6 separate regions of the Homo sapiens genome follow, and all the other regions are linked to region 2. Evidence: fine-mapped expression QTL. A gene starts in region 2. Each other region holds a variant in brackets. All regions are shown on one strand. Distances are between the middles of the regions. Region 1 overlaps OOSP2 (oocyte secreted protein 2). Region 2 holds the start of TCN1 (transcobalamin 1). Region 3 overlaps OOSP3 (oocyte secreted protein family member 3). Region 4 holds the start of OOSP1 (oocyte secreted protein 1). Region 5 overlaps OOSP3 (oocyte secreted protein family member 3). Region 6 has its middle 4.6 kb from the start of MS4A3.

Region 1 (5,077 bases), 180 kb before region 2:
AAAGTTTTGCCTCTTGCACATTTATATGTCTCTCTCTATTCTTTATTCTTCCTGAAAAATATTAGAACATATTTATTGGAGGTTCTTATCAATTAGATCAAGTCATTGTCTTTGAAGACATATTTCTGAATCTTCTACACAGAACAGAAAGAACTTAAATGTATAATATGAATTACCTAATAGTTAATGTTAAATTAATCAGCCATACCCCTACTGAATACAAATATTTAGAAATACACATTCACTAATCAACTAATCAGGACCTTTACTGAAGTAGGGTTTTTAGAAACCAGAGACTTAAGGAGAGATATACACCAACTATATTTTTGCTATGAAAAAATGAAACTGTTTTCCTGCAAAATACATAACACCAGCTTCAAGTTTCCATTTCTCCTTTAGCTCAGAGCAAGTTTGGACTAGAAGATAATAATCCTAACTCTTCTGCTGTTGTCTGAAAGTCAGCAATAAAAGGACTAGGATCCAATTTTATTTCATTCTCAGTAGAAACTGGTGTAAGCCACACTGATTTCCTAAAGAAAAGGGAAACAGAAAGCAGATAGTGTTGGAGCACTTGGGATCAAGTCAGTTTTACCACTGTTTAATATCATGATCATATACAGAATAGTCATTCAGGAGTATGGCATAGAGCCAGCATACTATGCCTTCTAGATCCTCGTGGACTCTTGGTACAGGATTTGAGCAGATAGGCTTACAGAAGAACTAATTCCAGATAGTCTCCCCATGATTTCTGCATCAAACACTGAGTAGAAAGACGAATGGTCTTAGATAATTTGTGATGCTTGCATTAGAAGAGTACCAATGTACCCAGCAAAACAGACTCAGCCAAATGGATCCTAAGAACAGTAAGAAAAAGCCACCAAAAGCTTAATCTGTCCCACTGTAGTGGCAGCAAAGTTCTATATGTCAATGTGAGTAAGTGAATATGAGAGAGAGAGACTACAACATTAAAATTCATGCACCCAAAACCTAAACAGACAACTTTGTTGGCCAAGTCTTCATTTTTTTTTTAAGGAAAGTAGGCTTCAAGCAACATAGTAGTTACTATCAAAATAGGAATATCTATTTATCATGATTACTCTGGCAGCCTACGGAAAGGCAGTAGTTCTGAGGCATTAGATCAGAACTCTGTGTTGCTCCAAGCTTTGGGTAGTTCATAGAATTGAAAACATATGTATGTGTGTGAAAGGTAGACAGAGACAAAGAGATGGAGATGGAGAGAGACAGGGAGAAAGAGAGAGAGACAGAGAGAGAGAGAGAGACAGAGAAACCGAGAGAGAGGCAGAGCGAGAGACAGAGAGACCAGAGAGACAGAGAGACAGGCCAGAGAGACAGGGACAGACCAGAGAGACAGGGACAGAGACAGAGAGAGAGAGACAGACAGAGAGAGACAGACAAAGACAGAGAGACAGACAGACAGACAGAGACAGAGGCAAAGGCAGAGTGAGAGACAGAGGGACAGACCAGAGAGACAGGCCAGAGAAACAGGGACAGACCAGAAAGACAGGGACAGACAAGGACAGAGACAGAGATAGAGACAGAGAATCAAGGGGTGGTTTCTATTTAGAGTTCAGCTATGTTCCTGAATATCACTAAATCCCTCAGCCTTTATGAAAATAAGTTAAAGGGAAGAGTAAAAGTATTATGAAAATACTTTATGAAAATAAGTTAAAGGGAAGAGTAAAAGTATTAACAATGTGAATGGACTTAATGCCACTGAACTGTACACTTAAAATGGTATCTTAGATTATGTACATTTTACCAAAATTAAAAGATTTGTACATTTTCCCAAAATTAAAAAAGATTATATACATTTTAACAAATTTACAACTTGTACAAATGTACAAGATTATGTATATTTTACCAAAATTAAAAAAAAATTCTGCCTCTCCTTGAGAAAAAGTACTATAATCACATTAAGACATTGCACATTGGCTGAGCTCTAAATTCTTATTTTGATGTCAACTATTTTCACATATTAAGCAAGGATAAAAATTTTCCTGTGGTTTTGAGATAGTTTCCAAGGTTCTTCACTCAGATTTATAAGACTTAACATAAATATTTCAATGGCATGGCAAAAAAAAAAAAAGTGTATCAGGATACCTTTCCACTTAGTCTCAAAGTTCACACGAGGCTCTTGGGATTCAATATCTCAGTTCCACAAAATTGCAAGCAAAGTACATTTAATAATTAGGCTGATAAGCCCTCCCTTCATGTATTCTCCATGAGTTAGTATTAAATGAAGGACTGATTTTCTTATGTTTTTAGCCACTTACTCTTATAAGATGAAATTGAGCAATAAAATGTATCAGAA[T/GAAAT]ATTATAAAAGACAAAACATTGAAAGATAATATCAGTGCTTAATCCTATCACTTACTAAAGGTGACAGAGTATTTAATGACTCTGCTTTGTAGTTGAGTTATTATAAAATAACATAGTTACACTAGATTGTTAGGACCATTATAAATCTATATGTTTTTATTCTAAAATAAACATTACATTCAAAATATTAAAACATTTTAAAGTACTCATTAAAATATTTGTGTAAATACTAATTTGGGGTTTGTTTACAATTATACTTATGGGTGAATCATGTTATATTCTCTAAAGTCTATGCTTCTGCAGAAGCTTCTCATAAGCAAAGGTAAAGCTAAAACATTCCAAAGGAATCAAATCTGCTGGACTTACCTAGAGGTGGAACACTCCAAATGGATTTCCTGAGGGTCATGATCTATATTCCTTGGGGTAAAGTACAGCTCGGTTTGAAAAAGGAGAGTTTCCTCAGAAACTACCTAGGAGAGCATGAAGTTTCAGTGGAAGATATTTGGAGTAACAGATGAGGAATACACACACTTGAATAGGATGTAAAAAACATTCATGATCTCAAAAATGGCTACTGTCATTCTTAAATATAAATAAAGATATGACAACTCACTGGGACAGAAGAGGAGTGTTATCCCTAAGAGTGAATTTAAAATGCCTGGGGGCAAAACAATCTTAATTCATTGCAGCAAATTTAAACTGCCGCTTACAGCCATCTTTATGATTCATTAATGAAAAGGTTTCCAACAGTTCCTTTGAGAAAGGTGATTTGTAAGTCAAATAACGGAGAGTGGTTTAAAGCACAAGCTTCGGAGAGTATTCATCCTGGTTTGGTATCTAAACTACCACCAACAAGCAGTGCATCCCTGGAAAAGCTGGTAAAGCACCTTCTGAAGCTCCAAGTTCCCAATTTCTAAAATAAAATACTTTATTCAAAAATGATTGTTATTATCATTGGTCACTGGCCCAAAATATTTGTGTAGTGTGAATATAAATTGCTTAAATTTGGGAATCTGTGAGAAGATAATATCCCAGGATAACAACGCAATTTAGGATTTGTGCCTAGCTGAATGACAAGAGATTTCATTTCAATGAAAATCCACTATATATTTACACAAATCCTCATGGAACATGGATAGATTTCAAATGACCTAACATTGAACATGATGGAGCTTCCCAAGATTGGTGACCTTCCACATTAGAAGAATCACACAAAATTTAAAGCAGTCTGCTAATATTTAGTAAAATATAATAGTAGCCTAAGGGCAACTTAGAATCAGTTCCCTAGCCAATTTATAAATCTGTGATCTAAGGTCCTGTGCACACAGAATGACCCAATATTCAGTGAAAAATAATGATAAATTCCGTTGTCCCCTGCCCATAAATTACTACAATGAGAAGCAAACATTATTTTTTTAAAAGACAATTTTAATACTAGGCATAAAAGTCTGACAAAACATGCAGTATTTTTTACAAACAATCACTGTTCTTACCCTTGTCCTGATGCCACAATCACGAACAAGATATATAAACTCATATACATATGTATGTATCCGATTTGCAGGGCAGCCCATTCCCAGATGTAATTCATCCGCAAATATATACAGATTTCTGCTTTCTGCAACTGGGATAACTGAGACCATCAACCAGTCCAGAGAGCAACTTATTTTCACTGTGGAAAGAACCATATGAAAAGCATCAGAAGGGTGTCTATCTTAAGAAAGTGTTCAAAGAATAGTCAACTCTGCCCTCTGTGATAAATAAAAGGCATTTATTTCTCTGGCAAGGGTAACCATGGCTTAAAGGTTTTCTTACAAACATTATTAAAATTATTTTCCAAAATACCTAACTAATTATGCCCCCATGTAACTAGATTTCAGCAATTTCATGGAGGAGGTGGGAGGATCAACATGCAAGAATAAGAAAAAGCATAAATGGGCCGGGCGCAGTGGCTGACGCCTGTAATCCCAGCCTTTTGGGAGGCCGAGGCGGGCGCATTACAAGGTCAGGAGATCGAGACCGTCCTGGCTAACACAGTGAAACCCCGTCTCTACTAAAAATACAAAAAATTAGCCGGGTGTGGTGGCAAGCGCCTGTAGTCCCAGCTACTCGGGAGGCTGAGGCAGGAGAACGGCGAGAACCCAGGAGGCGGGGCTTGCAGTGAACCAAGATCGCGCCACTGCACTCCAGCCTGGGTGACAGAGAGAGACTCCAAAAAAGAAAAAAAAAATAAGAAAGAAAATGAAAAACCATAACCGTATAGCCCCTTAATATTTCCTAAATATTCCATGGAGGGGGATATATTTAGGACAAAACATAAGGGGCAGAAGTGAATTGCAATGTGTTAGAATAAAAGCGATATCATCCCAGTATACTTTTGGAAAGAGAAAGAGGAGAAAGGGTGGTTCTAGAACAGTAGAATTCTTGTCTAGAGCAGCCAGAACCAGAAACAATCTCAGCCATAAAAGGAAAAAGAGAGAGAAAGCCCTTTATTTGGGATGTTAGCTCCATGCACGTTTTGTTGTAAAACCCATCTTTATCCTCTATATTTAAATCGTCAGTAAGTCAATAATAATCATTATTTGCAATAGATTCATTTGGAGGAACTGAGTCTTTTCAGCATTAAAAGGTACATATTTAAATTATTAATGAGCAAGTGGCCACAGAGGACTCCACCACCACTGGAGCTTGGAAGTTCCGCCTTTAGAGAGAAATCATCAACAAGGTAAGACAATGCACATTTC
Region 2 (5,077 bases):
CCCTGTCTCTACTAAAAAAAAATAGAAAAGTTAGCCGGTGTGGTGGCAGATACCTGTAATCCCAGCTACTCTGGAGGCTGAGGCAGGAAAATCACTTGGACCCGGGAGGTGGAGTTTCCAGTGAGCTGAGATTGCACCATTGCACTCCAGCTTGGGCGACAAGAGAGAAACTCTGTCTCAAAAACAAACAAACAAACAAACAAACAAACAAAAATATATATTATATAAAATATGTACTCCCATGTTCATTGCAGCATTATTCACAATATCAAAGACATAGAAACAACCTACATATCTGTTGATGGATGAAGGGATAAAAATTGTGATTTATATACACACACACATATATGTGTGTGTGTGTATATATATATTTATATTTATATAATAGAATAGTATTCAGCCATAAAAAAGAAGGAAATAGTGCCCTTTGAGACAGCATGGATGAACCTGAAGAATATCATGCTAAATGAAATAAGTCACAGACAAATACTATGATCTCATTTATATGTAGATTCTAAAAATTATCAAATACATGGAAACAGAGAGTAGAATGGTGGTTTCCACATAAGTTTTATATAAATATGTGAGAGAGAGAAAGAGATTTATTCCAAGGAGTTGATTCATGCCCTTATGGAGGCTAAGAAGTCCCACAGTCTACTGTCTGCATGCAGTAAAAGTCAGTGGAGTGATTCAGGCCAAACTGAAAGCCCAAGAACCAGGGGAGCCGATGGTGTAAATCTCAGTTTGAGGGCTGGAGAAGATAAGATGTCCTAGCTCAAACAGGCTGGCAGGAAGCAAAAAAAGGGTGAATTCCCCCTTCCTTCACCATTTTATTCTATTCAGGGTCTCAATAGATTGATTGATGCACACCTACATTGGAGACGGCATTCTACTTTCCAGAGTCCACCAATTAAAATGCTAATCCTATCTGGAAACACCCTCACAGATACATCGAGAAATAGTGTTTAATCTGGGCACTCAGGTGCCAGTCAAGTTGACACAGAAAATTAACCATCACAGAGGTACAATGCAAATAGTGGCTCATTAAGTCATGACATCCTTAGCTAGGCTGACAGTATTCTCTAATAGTTCTCAGAAGAACTGTGATAGGCAACACTTCTCACATGTAGCAACTGCCCTGGCAGGGCAGAAATTCACATTTGATGTATAGCTCTCTGGTTTTCCTCCTTGGTTAGGAAACTCTCATGGAATCTATCTTAGGAGAAAAATCATAGTTTGGAAACCACTATGCCAAAGATCCCCTCATGTGCTGGGTTCTCCAATACTGCCTGCTTCAATTTCAGACTTACAACTTTTACTTCCGTTTTTAAATTTTTTTATTTCAATTTTTGTAGGTACATAGTAGGTGTATATATTTATGGGGCTCATGAAATGTTTTGATACAGGCATGCAATGCGTAATAATCACATCATAGAGAAGGGGGTATTCATCCTGTCAAGCATTTATCCTTTACGTTACAAACAATCCAGTTATACTATTAGTTATTTAAAATGTACAATTAAATTATTATTGACTATAGTCACCCTGTTATGCTACCAATAGTAGGTCTTATTCATTCTTTCCAATATTTTGTACCCATTAACCCTCCGCATCTCCTTCCCACCACTAGCCTTCCCAGCCCCCAGTAACCATCTTTTCATTCTCTATCTCTATGAATTCAATTGTTTTGATTTTTAGATCCCACAAATAAGTGAGAACATGCAATGTATGTCTTTCTGTGCCTGGCTTATTTCACTTAACATAATTATCTCCAGTTCCATCCATTTTGTCACAACTGACAGGATTTCATTCTTTTATATGGCTGAATAGTACTCCATTGTGTATATGTACATTTGCTGTGTTCATTTATCTGTTGATAGACACTTAGCTTGCTTCCAAATCTTGGTTATTGTAAACAGTGCTGCAACAAACATGGGAGTGCAGATATCTCTTCAATATACTGGTCTTCTTTCTTTTGGGTATATAGCCAGCAGTGGGATTGCTGGATCATATGGTAGCTCTATGTTTAGTTTTTTGAGGAAGCTCCAAACTGTTCTCCATAGTGATTGTACTAATTTACATTCCCACCAACAGTGTACAAGGCTTCCCTTTTCTCTACATCCGTGCCAGCATTTGTTATTGCCTGTGTTTTGAATAAAGCCATTTTTAGCTGAGATGAGAGGATATCTCATTGTAGCTTTGATTTCCATTTATCTGATGATCAATGATGTTAAGCACCTTTTCAAGCACTTTTTCATATGCCTGCTTCCCATTTGGATGTCTTCTTTTACTTCCATTTTTATATGTTGTATGTGTTTGCATGATCAAATCTACTTTATCAGGAAACATAAAACATAAAGTGAAACGGAAAAAAAAGGAAAGATTATAGGAAACAGTCATTTGCCTAATATATCTTCACTGCACGGAAGGCAAATAATAGATATGAAACCCGAAGGTTTAGGACAGGAGACAAAGGAAAGTTATTGCCTTATTCTCCCTAACCACATCCTTCAAGTCTTCTTCCTTATTTATTACATCACATGGACAAATACACTTGACCACACCTCCTGACATTGCTCAATATTTGCTTGAGTGAAAAGAGGCTGAGGCAACCTGAAGGAGGAGCTCTCATTACCTTCTGCCCATCACTTAATAAATAGCCAGCCAATTCATCAACATTCTGGTACACTGTTGGAGAGATGAGACAGTCACACCAGCTGCCCCTAGTGGGGCTCTTACTGTTTTCTTTTATTCCAAGCCAACTATGCGAGATTTGTGGTGAGTAAACTTTGAGCTAAAATTACTCTAGAGTGATAGTCTACTGAAAACTGTTGACAAGAGACTCTATGTAGAGTTACCTGAGAAAAGATCCCATTCCAGTTTCGTATGTGGTTGGACTCCATGAATGATGAAAAGGGTGGCAGGAGATGGTGAGGAAAGTCTCACAATGCATGTTGTTGTAAGAGGAATTATAGATTGTGTATTCACTTGCCTAACTGCTCTTTCTATGCTCAGATCCTCTCTAGCACAGCATCCCTACCAAGTAACTCCCTATTCATGTGACTTTTCAATGACAGAAAATTTATGCTCCCAGAAACTTTTCTAGATCATGGAAAGTTATCTTTTGGTCTTGATATGCAATCTTTTTTCCCTGAAATTCAATGCATGATTTTTGGGTTAACCCCTTGTAACTACATAGAAAAAAATAATAATCTCTTTCAAATAGTGATGACTGCTGTCTTGTCATGAGTGAGTTTAGATGTTCCAAGTTGCATGTCCACCTTCCTTCAACTCTTTCCCAGGACACATGGGATAAAGTTCCATCATCTCTTGCATGGGTGTTGACCCCAGAGATTGTGTGGTTCTGTAAAAGAACTTTAAAGTAAGAGAAGGGAAAACTAAATTCAGGTTTAGTTTGATCCCTTAGTTATTGAATGACCCAACATTTCTGAATTTCTTTAGCTTCATTCATAAATAAAGGATAATGAGGGGAGACTATTGAAGCAAATTATCTCATGAAGTCTGGTGCAGTTCTCAAGTGCATGAATTCTCTTTTGTGAGACTTTACTCTGAAATTGAGCTTCAAACCAGTCCAAAGATTACTAGGTGGTACTATCTGTGCTCTCTAACCAGTAAGAAGAGAACACCACAGAAGACAGGCTTGTATACATACAGGCTAAAGCATAGACTCTTCTGACTCTGATTTTTCTTCTTGGCTTGACATTTCCCCTGTTGGATCCTAAGAATAGGGAATGGCTATGTAGGTTTTAGCTTTCAATTCATTTTAAATAATAATGATAATAATTAAATTTATCTTTGAGACTCAAGGAAGCTGATTTGAGTTGTTGATCAGGAACTAAAAAGTCTGTTTCAGGGCCAGAAAATCTGCTGAGCTGGATGGTTCCACAAAATCTCAGAGAACTGACTCACAATTGTTCCATTGTGTCTGCAACAAACCATGACCTTTCTACAATCACTCTATTCAGATCTTCTTGACTCATTCTTTTAAAGTAAAGAAAACTGGGCAAGAGAAATTACATTTCCTTGATTCTCAAGTATAGTGATAAAAACTCCAGTTGAGCTGGAAATAATAGTATGTGCAGCATTTTACAGTTTATTCGGTGGTTTCTTGTCCAATATCTGTAAGGTAAGTGTTAACAGCCACAATTTTTAAATGAGAAAACTAAGAGTAAAACAAGTTACATAAGTTATTATCCACAGTCATAAGTTAAGGAGCACAAAATGTGGCCAAAATCTGAATCCAAACCTCATGTTCTTCTCACTCTCCCACTAATCCATTAGATAATCTGGAGATATGTAGGATTTGGGGCTACTCCTCAAGATTATGGAAAAATACATTGACAAAGTGTCCTGTGTTTAAATAAATAGTAAATCTTTTTATTCTCCTCTATTTCCTTGGGAGCTATGGATTTTCCTACTTCCACAGTATAATGTGACTTCCCTCCATCTCTGGAATTGGGGCATATTGTAGGCTAAAACTGGAGAGTTTTTTACAGGCTGCATAATGCTAAATAATGATCTCGATGCCCAGCCAGCTGGGTAATCAGACAATGAAGTTTTGGGGTCAATCACCAGTATAACACAGAATTATTACCTGCATTTTCTCAACATTAACCCAGTTGATTTAGAAGATGGAGAAGGAAAGAACTGAATCCAGGAAGTAGAAAGTCCTGCTTACTGAGAGTCAGAAGACATGTAGTCTAGTTTCAGCTCAGCCTCCAATTATGGAAGTTTCTTTAAGGACAATCTATCTAAGCTTCATATACAAAATTAGGGAATGATGCTAGATTTCCCAGGCAGGAGTCTGCCAGTACACAATGATAAGTCTGCACCAGTTGTTAAAATATTAAAACATTTTCATGTTGGTTGTTAAAGGAGTAATGTCTGGCATGGGGGTGGGTTCAAGACCCACCTTTGTATTATTCCACCAACACAGTCTGCAGCCACTGGATTGGTCTAGGTCTGTGCCATATCTGTTACTAAATATTTTTATATAACCCCTGCTGCAAGTCTTACTATTTTCTGAGTATGTGTTTCTTATTTCCTTCCTTCTCTG
Region 3 (5,064 bases), 31 kb before region 2:
AAATAACTACATATGAATGAGGCTACTGTATTATTCAATCCAGAGTGTGTCATTTCCATTCAAGAAGGCTTGCTATGCATAAATATATTTTATGTTCTGATGCTTTCACTTTTGAAGTGCTCCCTTCAAAGGACATAAAAGAAATATTAAATAAAGAAGCTTTCAAAACGTTCCATTAGGCTATGATTCGAGGGGGAGATGAGTGGAAATGGCTATTGATAGTTATGTAACTGGAGATCTTTGTGGTAATGCATGAAAGTATAAATTAACTCCAGCAAACTCATTTTTCCCCGAAACTTTTGGTGTAAAACTATATATTATTATTATTTTGAGACAGGGTCTTGCCCTGTTGCCCAGGCTGGAGTGCAGTGGTGTGATCTTGACTCACTGCACGCTTAACCTCCCAGGCTCAAGCGATCCTTCCACCTCAGCCCACCTGCAAGGAGCTGGGACTACAGGTGCCTGCCACCACTCTTGGCAAATTTTTATATTTTTTGATGGAGACAGGGTTTCGCCATCTTGCCCAGGCTGGTCTCCAACTCCTGGGCCCCAGCGATCTGCCCACCTCGGCCTCCCGAAATGCTGGGATTACAGGTGTGAGTCACTGCACTCAGCCTTTTATTATTTTCAAAGTTTATTCTGCTTTTACTGAAATGCAACAAATATTTATTGAGCACCTGCTGTATTATTATATAGTCCATTCCTACCAGGCTGTTACAGCCATTGATGATTTTATTGAAAGATTCTCCCCAGGGCCTGAAAGCTTAGGGGGATGAGTAACTCCTCCCTCCTCAGGCCCAGTCCCAAGGCGCAAGGCCACTTGCACCAGCACTGTGCCTCAGCAAGATAGAAGAAGCAGGAAGTGAGCTGGCCAGAAGACATGTGCCCCCTGCAGATCGAGAGAGAGGCCATCCGGGTACCACGTAGCAGTTACGTCAGACTGGGACACTTCCTGTTTATAGGAAACTATAAAACCCCTGCCCCGTCTTCACTTAGGGCTGACACCATTTTACGCCTCAGCCCGTCTGCACCCAGGTGCTCATTAAAACAGCCTGTTGCTCCACACCGCCTTGTGGTGTTTGTTGGCACGTTCTCGGGTTTCGAACCAATACAAGAGCCTTGCACTTATCTCTTCCTTTGTGTATGTGTGTGTGTGTGCATGTGTGACACTGTTTATATATTTTTGGTTAGTTTGCTTGTGAAGCAGCTTGGAGAAGTCTCATCTACTTTTTACCGGTTGGTTTTTATAGAGTATCTCAGAAAGTGGACACAGAAATCGCAGATCTGCCATTAGTATTTCTTCTTTGAAGACACTGGAGATTCATTTTCTTGAGTGGCACTGCCATGCTCATTCAGTGAAAACTTGTGGGGCATAGAAATGGAACAGAGAGTTTCAAGCAGTTCTGCAGAAACTGTACTTTGGACTCCAGACTTCACTGTCCTTAGGCATGGAAACCATCACCTAGTTTGCATTCTTCATGACTGAGGTTGACTTAAAACAAAAATGATAGGAAAGCTTTCCTATGCTTCGGGTAGGAGACAAATTTACTTTTGTAGAATTTGTGGCTGAGAAAGGCAGGCAGGGCCGGATTGAAGAAGACATATGTCACCACTATTCACCAAGTTGTGGAACCCAAAGGTGACAGCCATGGAAATGTAGATCATCAGATCTGCTAAGTAGTCAGGGGAAGAAAACATTCAAACCAGTCTCCAAATGGGATTCTGTGGTTACAGTGAATGACCACTCCTGCTTTATTTACCCTGAGATTGCCGAGAATGACATGGCACTTATACTGATGGGCAGATGGCCAGATGAATATCATCATCCCGAGAATATGGAACCACCGCACTTGCATCAGTAGCTTTTTCCCTGTTACATAGGCATTCCTGCTATCCATTGGCACTTGGCTCAGCACAGATAGGCCGACAAGGACATAGTAGGCAAGTCCAAAACAGTATTGCACGATGTGAGTCGTGCCATTGGAGAAGACACTGACTTAGAAGCACTCTTCGTAAGCTGCGCAGCCACGGAAATACCAGCACTAAGAACGCAGACAGCGCCAGCTTCCCTCCCTGGAACTGTGCTGCCCTGAGAATTCTGAGCAAACCATAAAGCCAGCTTGGAAAAGATGCTGCCAGGAACAGAGATGGAGTAAGGCACCAAAGCAGGAAGCCATTCCACAGCACTGAGATGATATAGAAGTGGGAGAAGTAGGAAAAAATATCTCTTGGGGACATCAAAGGTGCGACAGGCGGCGGGGCGCGGAGGCCCCCCAACACTTGTTTTCCCAAAGCGGATCAGGTCCTGGAAGAATGCGCGGCCCAGGAGCAGGCCGAGCGGCAGAAGCTGCAACAGCAGGGTCAGCAGGAAGGCGGCGGCCGGCGTGAGCCACAGCAAGCGCAGCGGGTTCAGCGCCCAGAGCTCAGCTCTCCCTGAGGAAGCCATGGCTTAGGCGCCCGCGTTCCGCGCTGCCAGCGCCGCCACCGTCAGCCCGCGGAGTAGTGGCCACTGGCGCGTCGTGCGCCCATCTTAGCCATCTTAGAACTTTAAATCTTTTTTTTTTTTTAGAAGGAGTTTCACTCTTGTTGCCCAGGCTGGAGTGCAATGGCGCTATGTCGGCTCACCGCAACCTCCGCCTCCCGGGTTCAAGCGATTCTCCTGCCTCAGACTCCCAAGTAGCTGAGATTACAGGCATGCACCGCCACTCCCGGCTAATTTTGTATTTTTAGTAGAGGCGGGGTCTCTCCATGTTGATCGGACTGGTCTCTAATTCCCGATCTCAGGTGATCTGCCC[G/T]CCTTGGCCTCCCAAAGTGCTGGGATTACAAGCGTGAGCCATCACGCCTGGCAATCCTCCTTTCAAGAATGAAGCATCACAGCTCTGGGACAGTGATTAGGGTTATCACTCTCTGTCTGCCTTTACCACCGCTGGCTCCTATTCTGGACTTGGTGGGCTTTTGACTTTAAGGGACAATGGAAAAACAGAAATATTTTATGAATGAAAGTAATAAGTTCATTCCAAATGAATGCTATCTATGAAAGAGAGAGATTAAATACACAAACTCTATCCATTCTTGGTCCTAATTAATACAAAAATTCTTGCATGTCTTCATTGCTGAAATGGAAACTACCCACTTTTATCGCCATTTTCTGAGTTTTCCAGTTTGTTTTCATTCTTAAATTACCGGGGTTTTTTGAAGAAGGACACGAGGAGTCTGAATATACTGTTTATATTTAAAGGATGATGAAAATGTCTAGTAATGTTTTCAACAAAAGTAACAGGGATTCGTTCATTTCAAATGAATACTAGATATGAAAGAGAGAGAGGCAGGGAGGAAGAAAGGGAGAATGAATAAGTGAACTGTAACCAACTTTAGTCCTAATTAACACACAAATCCTTACTGGTCCCCTTACTAAAATAGAAAGCAGTAGCGCTGTTGGTGCAGCAAGCCTATGTGTGTTGCTTACCTGTTGTCTCACTACCACATGTGCCTCTCTCTGCCCTACAATGTTGGAGCCAAGAGTTCAAAAATTAGATTTTCAAGCCTCACCTTTAGGTTCTGCCAGCAGGAAACACTGATGGAGATTAAAAGATGTCTACCTTCACCCAGTTATTTGAAATAACAAGTATCTAGTCAATAAACCCTATTGCCTAAGGTTTCCCAATATGAAGAATAGAATCACACAGGCAGGACTTGAGGTTTTGTTAGAAACATCTCAAGATCCTCATGAGCATGTTTCAGAATGATGTTCTTACTAACTGGAGAGTGGTCATTGAAATAAAGAAGGATGGTCCTAAGGGATCACTAAAGGTTTAGTTCCTAGAGTGCCAAGAATAAAAACTAGTCTCACCCTATTGATCTTGAAGAAAGATACGGAAATATTCTGCTATCGCTGTTTCCCAAGGCCATGGGCCTAGAGGAGGTCAAACTTTCTACTCTATTTCCTGGTTGATCCAATGGTGCTCATTTCTATCATGGATACTAAATCTTTCTTAAAGGAATTAAACAACTATGTAGGATTATTCTCAGTCTACTGTATTTAAAACATGACTTGTACACTAACAGCAGGTGGAGGACAGAGACCCTTCCATGCCTACATCCCAGCCTAGGTTCTGTTTTGAGATTATAACCCAGTCATCAAGAAGTATAGCCAAAGGGACAGCACATTTTATTTGTAAGATCAACTCCACATACAAATTATACATAGACATTGTATTATAAGAGACTATGCAAGGGTATAATGGCCTATGTTTAAAAGGAGCACTTTTTAAAAACATATGAAGCACTGGGCTCTATCCCAACCCAATGTCCTCTCAGGAAGTGGCACCAAAAAGTGATAAATCTGTAGTGAGTGGTTCAAAAATTAAATTTTAAGTAAGCTGTAGCAACAGAGTTTTCAGGATTGCCATGGAAGAACCTAGAATATAGCTACATTTGCACTCTCATGGACTAATGGATGAGACATATTAAGTAGAAGTGACTGATGAGATGCCTCTACCTACAGAGAAAAAAGAAAGGTAGTTAATAAAAAGTTTCCAATGTAACCCCTTGATAAACTTGGCACAGTAAACACATTGACTAATATATTGACTAGTGAACACGGAGAACCTACTATGTGCCAGGGATTAGAGGGAAGGGTTGAAAGAGTTGAAAATTTTTATTCAAGTGTCTGAGCACTATTTAAAGTAAGTGGTTTATCAACTCAGATTATGTTTAAACTATACTAGAGATTTTCTTTTATTTGTCATAACTAGGGTAAAGGGAGACTTATTGACAAGACCAGGATATATGTAGACACATGGAAGTAGCATTTTTTCTAAACAGGATTGAAATGTAATGTGAGACCCATCATGTAGTTAAACACTATTTAAACAACAAATACCCTCCTTAGTAGAGATTTGAGCTTTTACTTCCTTATGTCAATACGATCATTTCTACATGGACACTGCCATGTTTTGTCTCTTCTAAGGATCCTCACCGAGGAGTTTTGAAAATATGGAATCCGAGTCAATCCAAATAAGCTAGCGTTGGTTAAGTTCCAGGGAGAATAAGAATTGGTAGCGG
Region 4 (5,077 bases), 70 kb before region 2:
GAGAGAAAGAAAGGAAAAGAGAAAGAGAAGCAGAAATAGAGGAAGAGAAACTGACAGCCCAAGTTTATACTCAGGGCTACCAATCATTCTGGTTTGCTCCGAACAGGAGGTTTTTGGGGCCGACGCAGGAAAAGTACTGGGAAAACCTGGACCACTGCTCACCTCACTTAGGGGGCACTGACTGCTCCCTCTGAAATGAAAAGGATCTATGAAGTATAAGGTAAAGAAAGGCTAAGCCTTATAAGGCTTTCTTCCTGTATGTGACACACCACAGAGTCCCAAGTTCCTACCACCACCCACTCCTCTGTTTTCCAGGCCACTCCACACTCTTTATATTAAACCCACTTCAAGTACTTGATCCCCAAGAATTGATATGGTCAGAATAAGATCAAAAGGAAAGGGGAGTTGGAGAAAGACAGTCTCAGGTTAGGGCACATTCCCTAGTCTCAGTGCCGGTATGCAAGAGAAAAACATGGTATCTCAAGATTGCACATCGAAAAGAGGCACCACCCCTCCATGTGTCCTTGGCTATTATTAAGATTCAACCAGACCACAACTGTAAAGAATCCAAAGCCACATCTTTCAGCTCTCTTTAAGAAACTTCTATTCCCCAAGTGATAAGTTATACCTGACCAGTCCCCAGCGCAGGTCCATATCAAGGAATGCAGATAAAAGAGCCCTTTGAACCCCAGAATGGTCTTCATTTGCCCAGATTGAAAACCAAACCTCACTCAGGAAACAGGAAGTTGGGGAGAATAGCCTTATATGCCAAAATGCCTGAAGCCACACATAGGTGTGGGTAATTAATTACAACTTTGGACAGCACACACGTGCCATAAATATAATTTTGTTTCATTTTCTAAGATGTTACACTTTTTACTCAAATGTCAAAAAACAAGAGCAAAGATAAAGCAAAATGTGCAATAGAAGTACAACAGAAGGCTTCACTTGTTTTAGAGTCCAAAGCATCAGATATAGTTATTTTTATGCACTAAGGTTTACTTTATTAAAACTTCCTAATATCCTATAACATCTGTCTCCACATCTGAACACGAAAGAAATAACTGGATGATAATTTACTTGTTCTGTGCATCTCAGAAGGCCAAGCCCTGAGAACATGGGAATTGAAAGATTTCATCTACTTTCACCTGTTTTCACCAACTAAACAGTGGTACTCAAACTTAATAGATATCAGAATCACCGGGAGAGCTTATTGAAGCACAGCTGAGTGTCATTTAGTTTTCTGATTCACTAAGACTGGGCTGGGACCTGAGAATTGATGTTTCTCACAAGTTCCCAGGCGATGCTCATACTGACCACCCAGGGACCACACTTTGAGAATCCCTGGTCTACAGGGTTTTGCCTTCAGAGTGCATGCTGTGTTGATGCCCATTAGCAGCGATGTTTGCTTCTCAAACTTTAAGGAGCATATACATCACTTGAGGCTCTCTTTACAATGCAGATTCTAATTCGGAATGTCTGGGGTGAAGGCTAAGATTCTGCATTTTAAGATTGCAGGGATGTTGCTCTGGAGACTACGTTGTGAGTAGCAATGCCTGTAAATGGTTACTCACATTTAGATTCCTTTCTTCAAAACAGAAGATGCCAACTTAAAAATGAGAAATTCAAAATCTCATTACCAAAACAAGCCTAAATGAATGTTTGGTTCAAATATATTCTGATTTTTTTCGCTAATAACCAGTTATTAGAGTTTAGCAACTGTGTCCTACGTTAATAGAACGTGGAAAGTAGGAGCTTACCAAAAACAAATAGAAAAGACTATATAAATGCATTTAACTATCCTTGATATTATCTGAATTTTATCATTAAATTTAGTCTGTTCTAAAAGTTCTAAAATGCCATTAAATGATGAGCTCTTCAAAGGTTGAGATCATTCCTCTGTATTTTTGTGTGTCCTAACTTTCACAAAATGGGTGCCCAATAAAAGATGGCAGGAGAAAGAAAAAAAATAGAATTAGTTAGCATTTGTTCCTTTTAAAAATTTTTGTTTGTTTTTGTTTTGTTTTTGTTTTTTTGAGATGGAGTTTAGCTCTTGTCACCCAGGCTAGAATGCAATGGCACGATCTCCGCTCCCCGCACTCTCTGCCTCCTGGGTTCTAGCGATTCTCCTGCTTAGACTCCCAAGCAGCTAGGATTACAGGCGCCCGCCACTATGGCCAGCTAATTTCTGTGTTTTTAGTAGAGATGTGGTTTCGCCAAGTTGGCCAGGCTGGTCTCGAACTCCTGACCTCAAGTGGTCTGCCTGCCTCGCCCTCCCAAAATGCTGGGATTACTGGTGTGAGCCACTGAGCATGGCCTCTTTTTAAGTTTTTGAAATGTTTACATTTCACTTGTGTTAAAGACACAAATATATTTTAATTTTAATAATTATGCTTTTTTAATTTAATGTGTATTGAGATTAAAGGTATATTAAAACATTTCAGATACATTGCTATCTAGATGGACAGTGCTAAGGTTCAGTCCAAATGAATGTCAAAACCTTGTCCACAGGTACCTAAGGATGCACAAGGCAATGTCTCTGACTTTCAGCCACCCAGTCTTAGCCTCGTGTATCTGACAATCTGCGAAACTACTATTGTTATCAAATCGTCAATAAACTAGTAAAGAATAGGTGGCTTGAATCTTAAAAATTACCTGGTTAAATCACTGGAAGAGCAATACTTTCAAGGTGAGGATGGAAGCATTGAAGAGGTGACAGGGTCTCTTCATAGAGACAGGGTTTTGCCATGTTGGCCAGAATGGTCTCAAACTCCTGACCTCAGGTGATCTGCCTGCCTCAGCCTCCCAAAGTGCTAAGATTATAGGCTTGAGCCACCAAGCCCA[G/T]ACTGCCATGTGTATATCCTTTTAAGGAAGTATCTATTCAAATATTTTATTCATTTTTATTGAGTTATTTCTCATCTTATTGAGTTGTACCTCATGACTTTTGTTTTGTATGGAAATGTCTTTTCAGAAGAGTCTTGGCTAGCTATCTTGAGTAAAGACTCTCATTCAGAATCTGATTATTTCCTCACAATTAGACTCGAACCTTTTTGGCAAGAATAAATGAAGTTAAAAATGTTATAATCTTAAGAACATTTCTATAGCTTTTCCGTTGTTTTAGAGCTCTTTATATATTAGGGAGATTATCCTTTTATCCGCGATATAAGATGCAAATATTTTCCTCCTAGGCAGTCATTTGTCTTTTGATTTTGCTTGTGGTATTTTTGCCTCAAAGTTTGTTTAATTTTTGCTTCAGATTCTATTTGGTCACATTTTACTTATTCCTTCTGGAATCTGAGTCATAATTACAACAGACTCGCTTACACCTATTTAATATAATAATTAATAGAAGCAGGCTAAATACACATTGAGCATTTTACTTCGACTGGAGTATGACCAGTACAGGGCTGGTAATTCACTATTAACTGTGTCATTTGTTTGTCTCTATCCAGTGGGATCCCCAGACACCTAACTAATTCAAATTAACTCTCAGCTAAATGGCTAGCAACACTAAAATATGGCAGTTATGTCCCCATTTACACATGTATTCAGACAGAAAAAAATAAGAAAGAATCCTCTCACTAGCTAAGGTGTCCAATGGTCTGGCCTACAGAAGTGTCTCCCTGACTAAGAGAAACAGGATACTTCAGTCTCACTCTCAATAAATCTCTGGACCGGGGCTCAACCAGCCTTCCCTTTCAGAGGCTGAAGATACTGAGTAATTCTCCTATACGCATCTGCATTCTCTTTTCTTGCCTTGGGTTTAGAGAATTACACTTCTATCTTGCCAAATTTTCTTTTTTTTACAAAAAGAATTATTTCCCTTAGAAAATTTTTAGGATATGTGACTAGTTATAGCAGAGGGTCCCAAACATTCACCTAGTTCTCTTAATGATACAGTAACTTTTGTTGTTTGTTTGCTTTTTATGGCATCCTTTCATGAAAAGAAATACATAACAGCTTCATTTATTATGTTGTTACATCAAAATAACTTCAGTATTTTTGTGCTGACAACTTAGTAGCCATTTGAAAACACATACATTGGAAGAAAATATTTTTATTTTATTCTTTAACCACAATTATGAATAATATGTGTATAACTGTTTGACGCTGCACAGCATCTCAGCTCTTGAAATCAGATTGGGCATCACCATCTTCATTCCTTATTCCACATGGATTTTTCCCACAGTAACTGCTTTGGCTATTCATCACAGCAACCACTAGATCCCAAGTTGCACAAAGTTGTGGACTAATAGAAAAGAATGTAGTGCCACCAAAGTGGAACTGTGGACTACCTTGAGCTGGTAATTTGCATCATGTCTGACAGTTGTCAAGTATCACTCACTGTCTCCCCGAAATTTTTAAAATATCCCCTGGTATCCCTGTGTGTTCACTGCAGTGCCTCTGGGGGATCTTCAGCACAGAGAATACAAACTGTGCTGATAAGATTAGTGTTTTTATAGAGAAATGTGACCTATTAATGACCTCTTTAATGGAACAGTAAATTCTCACAAACAGGTATTTTAGAATATTAATGAAAATAACTAAATGTGGTACACTTTGTTTTCTATTCTCTTCTCACAATTTATCAATTCGATTATTCAAAGATATCTATTAAGCAAATGATATGTCAGGGGCATGTCTCAAATAAATGAAAATTTATTTTCACACAAAAGCCTGTACACCAATATTCCTAGCAGTTGTATTCATAGTCGCAAAATACTGGAAACAATCTAGATGCCCTTTTTTTAAATGAATGGCTAAACGAACCATAGTAATCTATACCATGGGATACTATTTAGCAAGAAAAAGAACAAATTATTGCTTCATTGGAACATTCTGCATGAATCTCCATGGAATTATGCTGAGTGAAAACAGCCAATCCCAAAAGGTAATATGCTATACTATTCCATTTATATAACATCCTTGAAATGAAAAAGTGGAAACAGAGAGTAAATTAGTGGTTACCAGGGTTTACGAGGGGATGGGGACAGGAGGGAAGTAGATGTAGCTCTTAAAAGGTCATATTATGGATCACTGTGGTGATGGAAATGTTCTGTGTCTTGACTGTATCAAT
Region 5 (5,077 bases), 21 kb before region 2:
CACCAGAAGGCCTTCCTTGCAAGAGTTCCTGAAGGAAGCATTAAACATGGAAAGGAAAAACCATTATCAGCCACTACAAAAACACACTAAAGTACACAGACCAATGACACTATGAAGCAACTACATTAACAAGTCTGCAAATTAACCAGCCAGCATCATGATGACAGGACCAAATTCACACATAGCAATATCAACCTTAAATGTAAATGTGCTAAATGCCCCAATTAAAAGACACAGAATGGCAAGCTGGATAAAAAGACAAGATTCATTGGTGTGCTGTATTCAAGAGACACATCTCATATGCAAAGACACAAATAGGATAAAAATAAAGGGATGGAGGAAAATTTACCAAGCAAATGGAAAGCAGAAAAAAGCAGGAGTTGCAATCCTAGTTTCTGACAAAATAGAATTTAAACCAACAAAGGTCAAAAAAGACAAAGAAGGTCATTACATGGTAAAGGGTTCAATTCAACAAGAAAAGCTAACTATCCTAAATATATATGAACCCAACACAGGAGCACCCAGATTCATAAAATAAGTTCTTAAAGACCTACAAAGAGACTTAGACCCCCACACAATAGTGGGAGACTTTAATACCCCACTGTCAATATTAGATTGAGACATAAAATTAACAAAGATATTCAGGACTTGAACTCAGCTCTGGATCAAGTGGACCTGATAGATATCTACAGAACTCTACACCCCAAAACAACAGAACATACATTCTTCTCAGTGCCACATAACTTACTCTAAAATTCATCACATAATTGAAAGTAAAACACTCCTCAGCAAATGCAAAAGAACTGAAATATAACAGTCTCTCAGACCACAGCATAATCAAATTAGAACTCAAGATTAAGAAACCCACTCAAAACCACACAATTACATGGAAATTGAACAACCTGCTCCTGAATGACTTCTGGGTAAATAATGAAATTAAGGCAGAAATCAAGTTCTTTGAAACTAATGAGAACAAGAAGACAATGTATCAAAATCCCTGGGATGCAGCTAATGCAGTGTTAAGAGGGAAATTTATAGCACTAAAATGCTAACATCAAAAAGCTGAAAAGATTTCAAATTAACACCCTAACATCAAAACTAAAAAGAACTAGAGAAACAAGAGAAACCCCAGAGCTAGCAGAAGACAAGAAATAGCCAAGCTCAGAGAAGAACTGAAGGAAATAGAGACATGAAAAACCCTTCAAAAAAATCAATGAATCTAGGAGCTGCTTTTTTGGAAAAAAAAAAAATCAACAAAATAGGTAGACCACTAGCTAGACTAATAAAGAAGAAAATAGAGAAGATTCATATAAACACATTCAGAAATGATAAGGGGGATACCACCACTGACCCTACAGAAATACAACCAACCATCAGAGAATACTATAAACACCTCAAACTAGAAAATCTAGAAAAAAATGGATAAACTCCAGGACACGTACACTCTCCCAAGACTGAACCAGGAAGTTGAATCCCTGAATAGACCAATAACAAGTTCTGAAATTGAGGCAGTAACAAATAGCCTACCAACCAAACAAACAAAGAAGCCCAGGACCCGTTGGATTTACAGCTGAATTCTACCAGAGATACAAAGAGGAGCTGGTACCATTCCTTCTGAAACTATTCCCAACCATTGAAAATAAGGAACTTCTCTCTAACTCATGTTATGAGGCCAGCATCATTCTGATACCAAACCCTGACAGAGATACAACAAAAAAAGAAAACTTCAGGCCAATATCCCTGATGAATATCAATGCAAAAATCCTCAATAAAATACTGGCAAACTGAATCTAGCAACACATCAAAAAGCTTATACACCACAATCAAGTTGGCTTCATCCCCAGGATGCAAGGCTGGTTCAACATATGCAAATCAATAAACATAATTTGTCACATAAACAGAACTAAAGACAAAAACCACAGGATAATCTCAATAGATACAGAAAAGGCTTTGAGAAAATTCAACATCCCTTCATGTTAAAAACTCTCAATAAACTAGGTTTGAAAGAACATACCTCAAAACCATAAGAGCCATTTATGACAAACCCACAGCCAATATCAGAACGAAAGGGCAAAACCTGTAAACATTCCCCTTGAAAAATGGCACAGGACAAAGATGCCCTCTCTCAGTACTCTTATTCAACATAGCTGGAAGTTCTGGCCAGAGCAATCAGGCAAAAGAAAGAAAGAAATGGTATTCATATAAGAAGAGAGAAAGTCAAATTGTCTTTGTTTGCAGATGATGTGATCCTATATCTAGAAAACCCCATGGACTCAGCCAAAAGCTTCTTAAGCTGATAAACAACTTCAGGAAAACCTCAGGATACAAAATCAATGTGCAAAAATCACAAGCATTCCTATACACCAACAACAGACAAGCAGAGAGCCAAATTATAAATGAACTCCCATTCACAATTGCCACAAAGAGAATAAAATGCCTAGGAATACAGCTAACAAGGGAAGTGAAGGACTTCTTCAAGGAGAACTACAAATCACTGCTCAAGGAAACCAGAGAGGACACAAACAGATGAAAAAAACATTCCATGCTATTGGATAGGAAGAATCAATATCGTAAAAATGCCCAAACTGCCCAAAGCAATTTCTAGATTCAGTGCCATTCCCATTAAACTACCATTGACATTCTTGACAGAATTAGAAAAAAAAACTATTTTAAAAATCATATGGAACCGAAAAAGAGCTTGTACAGCCAGGACAATCCTAAACAAAAAGAACAAAGCTGGAGGCATCATGCTACAAAACCTCAAACTATACTGCAAGGCTACAGTAATCAAAACAGCATGGTACTGGTGCAAAAACAGACATATAAACCAATAAAACAAAATACAGAACTCAGAAATAAAACTGCACATCTACAACCATCTGATCTTTGACAAACCTGACAAAAACAAGCAATGGGGAAAGGATTTCCTAT[T/C]TAATAAATGGTGCTGGGAGAACTGGCTAGTCATATGCAGAAAATTGAAACTGGATCCCTTCCTTACACCTTACACAAAAACTAACTCAAGATGGATTAAAGACTTAAGTGTAAAACCCAAAACTATAGAAACCCTAGAAGAAAATCTAGGCAATACCATTCAGGTCATACACATGTGCAAAGATTTTATGATGACATTGCCAAAAAATTGCATCATAAGCAACAAAAGCAATTGCAACAAAAGCAAAAATTGACAAATGGGATCTAATTAAACTAAAGAGCTTCTGCACTGCAAAAGAAACTATCATCAGAGCAAACAGACAACCTACAGAATGGGAGAAAATTTTTGCAATCTATCCATCTGACAAAGGTCTAATATCCAGAATCTACAAGGAACTTAAGCAAGTTTACAAAAAAAAAAACAACAAAAAAAAAACCATTAAAAAGTGGGCAAAGGGGTGTGGTGGCTCATGCCTGTAATCCCAGCACTTTGGGAGGCCAAGGCACACGAATCACTTGAGGGCAGGAGTTCAAGACCAGCCTGGCCAACATTGTGAAACCCAGTCTCTACTAAAAATACAAAAAAAAATTAGCCGGGCATGGTGGCACACGCCTATACTCCCAGCTATTCGGGAGGCTGAGGCAGCAGAATCGCTTGAATCTGGGAGGCGGAGGTTGCAGTGAGCCAAGATCACACCACTGCACCCCAGCCTGGGTGACAGAGCAAGACTCCGTATCAAAAAAAAAAAAAAAAAGTGGGCAAATGACATGAACAGATACTTCTCAAAATAAGACATACATGTGGCCAAAAAACATAAAAGCTCAACATCACTGATCATTAGAGAAATGAAAATTAAAACCACAATGAGATACGTTCTCACACCAGTCAGAATGGTGATTATTAAAAAGTCAAGAAACAACAGATACTGGAGAGGTTGCAGAGAAATAGGAACTCTTTTACACTGTTGGTGGGAATGTAAATTAGTTCCACCATTGTGGAAGACAGTGTGGTGATTCCTCAAAGATTTACAACTGGAAATACCACTTGACCAAACAACCCCATTACTGGGTATATACTCAAAAGAATGTAAATCATTCTGTTACAAGGATACATGCATTTGATCAAACAATCCCTTTACTGGGTATATACCCAAAAGAATATAAATTCTATTACAAGGATTCACGCACGTGTATGTTCATTGCAGCACTATTCACAATAGCAAAGACATGGAATCAACCCAAATGCCCATCAATGATAGATTGGATAAAGAAAATGTGGTACATACATACCATGGAATACTATGCAGCCATAAAAAGGAATCAGATCATGTCCTTTGCAGGGACTTAGGTGAAGCTGGAAGCCATTATCCTCAGCAAGCTAACACAGGAACAGAAAACCAAACACTGCATGTTCTCACTTAAAGGTGGGAGCTGAATAATGAAAACACATGGACACAGAGAGGGGAATAACACACATAGGGGCTTGTCAGGGGAGGGTGGGGGAGTAGAGCATTAGGAAAAATAGTTAATGCATGCTGGGCTGGATACCTAGGTGATGGATTGATAGTTGCAGCAAACCACCATGGCACACATTTACCTATGTAACAAATCTGCACATCCAGCACATGTACCCCAGAACATAAAATAAAATTTTAAAAAATTAAAATAAATATTTTTTAAAAAAAGAAATAGAAGATGGCACATTATTCAACTCATTCTATGATGTATTGCCCTGATATTAAAACCAAAGACATCACAAAAAGAAACTATAGATCAATGTACCTTATGAATGTACGTAAAAAAACTTCCAACCCAAATGCCCATCAATGATAGATTGGATAAAGAAGATGTGGTACATATGCACCATGGAATAGTATGCAGCCATAAAAAGGAAGAAGATCATGTACTCTGCTGGGACATGGATGGAGTTGGAAGCCATTATCCTCCACAAACTACTGCAGGAACAGAAAATCAAATACTGCATGTTTTCACTTATAAGTGGGAGCTGAATGATGAGAACACATGGACACATGGGGGACAACAACACACACTGGGGACTGTCAGGGGGATGGGGAGGGAGAATAGCTAATGCATGCTGGGCTTCATACCTAGGTGATGGGATGATCTGTGTAGCAAACCACCATGG
Region 6 (5,077 bases), 190 kb before region 2:
GATTCACAAATAAAAATTTAATATACTTACCATGTACAACATGTTTTGACACATGTGTGCATTGTGAAGTCACTAACACAAAGCAGATAATCTACTGATCACATCAGATCACATAATCATCTTTTTTTTTTTTTGGTGGTGGTGGTGAGAACATTTAAGATCTCCTCTCTTAAACTTCAAGTACATAGTACAGTATTAACTTCAGTTATCATGCTGTTCATTAGATCTGCAGAACATATGTATCTGACTGTACCTCATTAAAGCTGAGGGGGGAACAGTAAAATAAATACATAAAAATTATTTTTATTTTTTATGTATTTATTTGAGACAGAGTCTCACTCTGTCACCAGGCTGGAGTGCAGTGGCGCGATCTCAGCTCACTGCAAGCTCCGCCTCCGGGTTCAAGCAATTCTCCTGCCTCAGACTCCCGAGTAGCTGGGACTACAGGCACACACCACAACGCCCAGCTAATTTTTGTATTTTCAGTAGAGATGGGGTTTCACCACGTTGGGCAGGATTGTCTCGATCTCTTGACCTCGTGATCCACCTGCCTCGGCCTCCCAAAGTGCTGGGATTACAGGCATGAGCCACCACGCCCGGCCCCCTATTTTTTCCATTTTTGTAAGTACCTAGTGTATATACTTATGAGGTACATGAGACATTTTGATACAGGCATGAAATGCATAATACTCACATCATGAAGAATGGGGTATCCATCCCCTTAAGCAGTTATCCATTGCATTGCAAACAATCCAATTACACTCTTTATCTTAAAAATGTACAGTTATTGACTACAGTCACCCTGTTTTGCTATCAAATAGTGGGTCTTATTTATTCTATTTTTTTGTACCCATTAACCATCCCCACCTCCCCTCCCAGGCCCCCACTACCCTTCCCAGCCTCTGGTAACCATCCTTCTACTTTCTGTCTTCATGAGTTCAATTGTTTTGGTTTTTAGATCCCACAAGTGAGAACATGTGATGTTTGTTTTTCTGTGCCTGGCTTATTGCACTTGACAGAATGATCTCCAGTTCCATTCATGTTGTTGCAAATGACTGGATCTTATTCTTTTTTATGGCTGATAAATAAAAATAAATAAATTAAAAAATTTTTTAAACAAATTAAAAAGGGAAAAATAGAAGATTCATAGACCTTTTTTCCACTTGCATGCAATATTTCCCAATGGCAAGGAGACATGATCAAGGAGAGACTGACTAGCTTTCAGTGCTGAAATACCTTAAAGAATAATCAAGTTCAAAACTCAAGTAGCAAATTTCCAAAAGGAAAAGGAAATCTTCGAGTGAATTCACCTATAGTCTAGCTATTCATTTACAAGTGCCCCATTTGACTAAAAAGCAATATATTTCTCAAGACTTGCTGGTCTTATCTACTTACTAAATATTATTGCTTGCACTGTCTGTTTTACCCCCCCATACACACTCATGCCCATGTGTGTACATATTAAAATCACATTCTTCATGAAGCAGTACCTTTATATATCTTAACACATGTATAAGCTCTTAAAACACTTAACCACCTAAGGTTTTTGACTTTGGGGTGCATTAAACGTGTTTAATTCATAATTTACCAGTTTATAATGTTGCAAAAGTCACAAGTTGAAATCACGTTGAAATGGCATTAGTTACTATAATTGTAAGATTAATAAAAGATTAAGACGGACAAGGATTGTTGTTCCAAGAGGTCTTGAAATAATGAGCCATCAAATAAAACCAACAATCAGAAACTACCTTTGATTCATTCTTGTTTTGACCTCATGCTGTGTTTTCAAATAAACGAGGAAAATGGACTAGAAATCCAATCTTAGCATTTGAATGAAGGCACTGTTGTTTTAGAGGTCCTAAGAAAACTGGAAGAATTTATCATGTCATTTATTGGTAAACATGGAAATAGCCTAGATAGAAAATGCTAATACAACAGTTCTACTTTCAACTACCTAGTGGAATCTTCTGGGAAGTTTATAAGACATTAAATCAGGATATTTGTCATGAACCCAACATGAAGGTGAACTTTTTTTTTTTTTTTTTT[TTG/G]AGACAGTCTTACTCTGTTGCCCAGGCTGGAGTGCCATGGCACAATCTCGGCTCACTGCAGCCTCTGCCTCCCAGGTTCAGGCGATTCTTGTGCCTCAGCCTCCTGAGTAGGTGGGATTACAGGGGCACACCACCATGCCCAGTTAATTTTTCTATTTTTTTTAGTAGAGACAGGGTTTCACCATGTTGACCAGGCTGGTCTTGAACTCCTGGCCTCAAGTAATCCACGCGCCTCAAACTCCCAAGGTGCTAGGATTACAGGCATGAGCCACTGCACTCAGCCCAACACAAACATTTTTTAAAGGTCCCAAGGTAACGCTAATGTGAAGCCAGATTGTAGAACTACTGGGTATGTCTAAAAGACCTTTATAACGAGATAGTTGGAAATAAGATAGGAAAAAACAAATGCATTTCTCTAAGAAAGATCACCTCTTCTACTAGGGTGGCCTATGTACTTTATTTTAGGGTGTAAAATTGTATCTTAGTTTGGAGTTAAACAGATTTCATTTTTGACAGCCATTTTAATGGGATTTCATCCTGATAAGTACATTTTCTATAGTGCAAGATGGGCTTCATGTGAAATATTACAGCTCTTTAATCTTCTTTTGCCTTGATTTGCATTCTCCTCACGAAAGGTAACCATTGAGTTCTACATGAACACATTCTTTTTTTTTTTTATGGCAAGAGAGACTTTATTTTTATTTTATTATTATTATACTTTAAGTTTTAGGGTACATGTGCACAATGTGCAGATTAGTTACATATGTATACATGTGCCATGCTGGTGTGCTGCACCCATTAACTCGTCATTTAGCATTAGGTATATCTCCTAATGCTATCCCTCCCCCCTCCCCCCACCCCACAACAGTCCCCAGAGTGTGAAGTTCCCCTTCCTGTGTCCATGTGTTCTCATTGTTCCATTCCCACCTATGAGTGAGAATATGCGGTGTTTGGTTTTTTGTTCTTGCAATAGTTTACTGAGAATGATGATTTCCAATTTCATCCATGTCCCTACAAAGGACATGAACTCATCATTTTTTATGGCTGCATAGTATTCCATGGTGTATATGTGCCACATTTTCTTAATCCAGTCTATCATTGTTGGACATTTGGGTTGGTTCCAAGTCTTTGCTATTGTGAATAGTGCCACAATAAACATACGTATGCATGTGTCTTTATAGCAGCATGATTTATAGTCCTTTGGGTATATACCCAGTAATGGGATGGCTGGGTCAAATGGTATTTCTAGTTCTAGATCCCTGAGGAATCGCCACACTGACTTCCACAATGGTTGAACTAGTTTACAGTCCCACCAACAGTGTAAAAGTGTTCCTATTTCTCCACATCCTCTCCAGCACCTGTTGTTTCCTGACTTTTTAATGATTGCCATTCTAACTGGTGTGAGATGGTATCTCATTGTGGTTTTGATTTGCATTTCTCTGATGGCCAGTGATGGTGAGCATTTTTTCATGTGTTTTTTGGCTGCATAAATGTCTTCTTTTAAGAAGTGTCTGTTCATGTCCTTCGCCCACTTTTTGACGGGTTTTTTTTTTCTTGTAAATTTGATATAACCAAAGACAAAAACCACATGATTATCTCAACAGATGCAGAAAAGGCCTTTGACAAAATTCAACAACCTTCATGCTAAAATCTCTCAATAAATTAGGTATTGATGGGACGTATCTCAAAATAATAAGAGCTATCTATGACATACCCACAGCCAATATCTTACTGAATGGGCAAAAATTGGAAGCATTCCCTTTGAAAACTGGCACAAGACAGGGATGCCCTCTCTCACCACTCCTATTCAACATAGTGTTGGAAGTTCTGGCCAGGGCAATCAGGCAGGAGAAGGACATAAAGGGTATTCAATTAGGAAAAGAGGAAGTCAAATTGTCCCTGTTTGCAGATGACATGATTGTATATCTAGAAAACCCTGTTGACTCAGCCCAAAATCTCCTTAAGCTGATAAGCAACTTCAGCAAAGTCTCAGGATACAAAATCAATGTACAAAAATCACAAGCATTCTTATACACCAATAACAGACAAACAGAGAGCCAAATCATGAGTGAACTCCCATTCACAATTGCTTCAAAGAGAATAAAATACCTAGGAATCCAACTTACAAGGGACGTGAAGGACCTCTTCAAGGAGAACTACAAACCACTGCTCAATGAAATAAAAGAGGATACAAACAAATGGAAGAACATTCCATGCTCATGGGTAGGAAGAATCAATATCGTGAAAATGGCCATACTGCCCAAGGTAATTTATAGATTCAATGCCATCCCCATCAAGTTATCAATGACTTTCTTCACAGAATTGGAAAAAACTACTTTAAAGTTCATATGGCACCAAAAAAGAGTTTGCATCACCAAGTCAATCCTAAGCCAAAAGAACAAAGCTGGAGGCATCATGCTACCTGACTTCAAACTATACTACAAGGCTACAGTAACCAAAACAGCATGGTACTGGTACCAAAACAGAGATATAGATCAATGGAACAGAACAGAGCCCTCAGAAATAACGCTGCATATCTACAACTATCTGATCTTTGACAAACCTGAGAAAAACAAGCAATGGGGAAAGGATTCCCTATTTAATAAATGGTGCTGGGGAAAGTGGCTAGCCATATGTAGAAAGCTGAAACTGGATCCCTTCCTTACACCTTATACAAAAATTAATTCAAGATGGATTAAAGACTTAAACGTTAGACCTAAAACCATAAAAACCCTAGAAGAAAACCTAGGCATTACCATTCAGGACATAGGCATGGGCAAGGACTTCATGACTAAAACACCAAAAGCAATGGCAACAAAAGCCAAAATTGACAAATGGGATCTCATTAAACTAAAGAGCTTCTGCACAGCAAAAGAAACTACCGTCAGAGTGAACAGGCAACCTACAAAATGGGAGAAAATTTTCACAACCTACTCATCTGACAAAGGGCTAATATCCAGAATCTACAATGAACTCAAACAAATTTACAAGAAAAAAACAAACAACCCCATCAAAAAGTGGGCGAAGGA

What was found. PIP is the estimated chance that this variant, and not a neighbour inherited with it, causes the effect.
Region 1: its variant is the best candidate, but not a certain one, in a credible set for the expression of TCN1 in whole blood (INTERVAL, PIP 0.50).
Region 3: its variant is the best candidate, but not a certain one, in a credible set for the expression of TCN1 in whole blood (INTERVAL, PIP 0.65).
Region 4: its variant is the best candidate, but not a certain one, in a credible set for the expression of TCN1 in whole blood (TOPMed, PIP 0.67).
Region 5: its variant is the best candidate, but not a certain one, in a credible set for the expression of TCN1 in whole blood (INTERVAL, PIP 0.67).
Region 6: its variant is the best candidate, but not a certain one, in a credible set for the expression of TCN1 in whole blood (INTERVAL, PIP 0.86).

The regions. Positions count from the first base shown.
Region 1 is chr11:60,042,397-60,047,473 of GRCh38, reverse strand. It overlaps OOSP2 (oocyte secreted protein 2), which reads right to left. Exons shown (of 4, transcript NM_173801.5): 2 at 3,827-4,005; 3 at 2,700-2,803; 4 at 1-530. The coding sequence ends at 401. Among named protein-coding and RNA genes, the nearest start is that of OOSP2, 4.5 kb to the right of the region's middle. The variant T/GAAAT (reference allele first, on the strand shown) is at 2,333.
Region 2 is chr11:59,864,093-59,869,169 of GRCh38, reverse strand. TCN1 (transcobalamin 1) reads left to right here and starts at 2,683. Exons shown (of 9, transcript NM_001062.4): 1 at 2,683-2,778. The coding sequence starts at 2,700.
Region 3 is chr11:59,895,567-59,900,630 of GRCh38, reverse strand. OOSP3 (oocyte secreted protein family member 3) reads right to left here. Exons shown (of 5, transcript NM_001395255.1): 4 at 4,979-5,064; 5 at 4,148-4,498. The coding sequence ends at 4,418. It also overlaps the pseudogene SRD5A3P1. Among named protein-coding and RNA genes, the nearest start is that of OOSP3, 19 kb to the right of the region's middle. The variant G/T (reference allele first, on the strand shown) is at 2,796.
Region 4 is chr11:59,934,082-59,939,158 of GRCh38, reverse strand. It overlaps OOSP1 (oocyte secreted protein 1), which reads right to left and starts at 727. Exons shown (of 5, transcript NM_001395276.1): 1 at 629-727. The coding sequence starts at 704. The variant G/T (reference allele first, on the strand shown) is at 2,845.
Region 5 is chr11:59,885,401-59,890,477 of GRCh38, reverse strand. The region is part of intron 2 of OOSP3 (oocyte secreted protein family member 3); the gene reads right to left. Among named protein-coding and RNA genes, the nearest start is that of OOSP3, 9.2 kb to the right of the region's middle. The variant T/C (reference allele first, on the strand shown) is at 2,932.
Region 6 is chr11:60,049,525-60,054,601 of GRCh38, reverse strand. No RefSeq gene overlaps it. Among named protein-coding and RNA genes, the nearest start is that of MS4A3, 4.6 kb to the left of the region's middle. The variant TTG/G (reference allele first, on the strand shown) is at 2,047.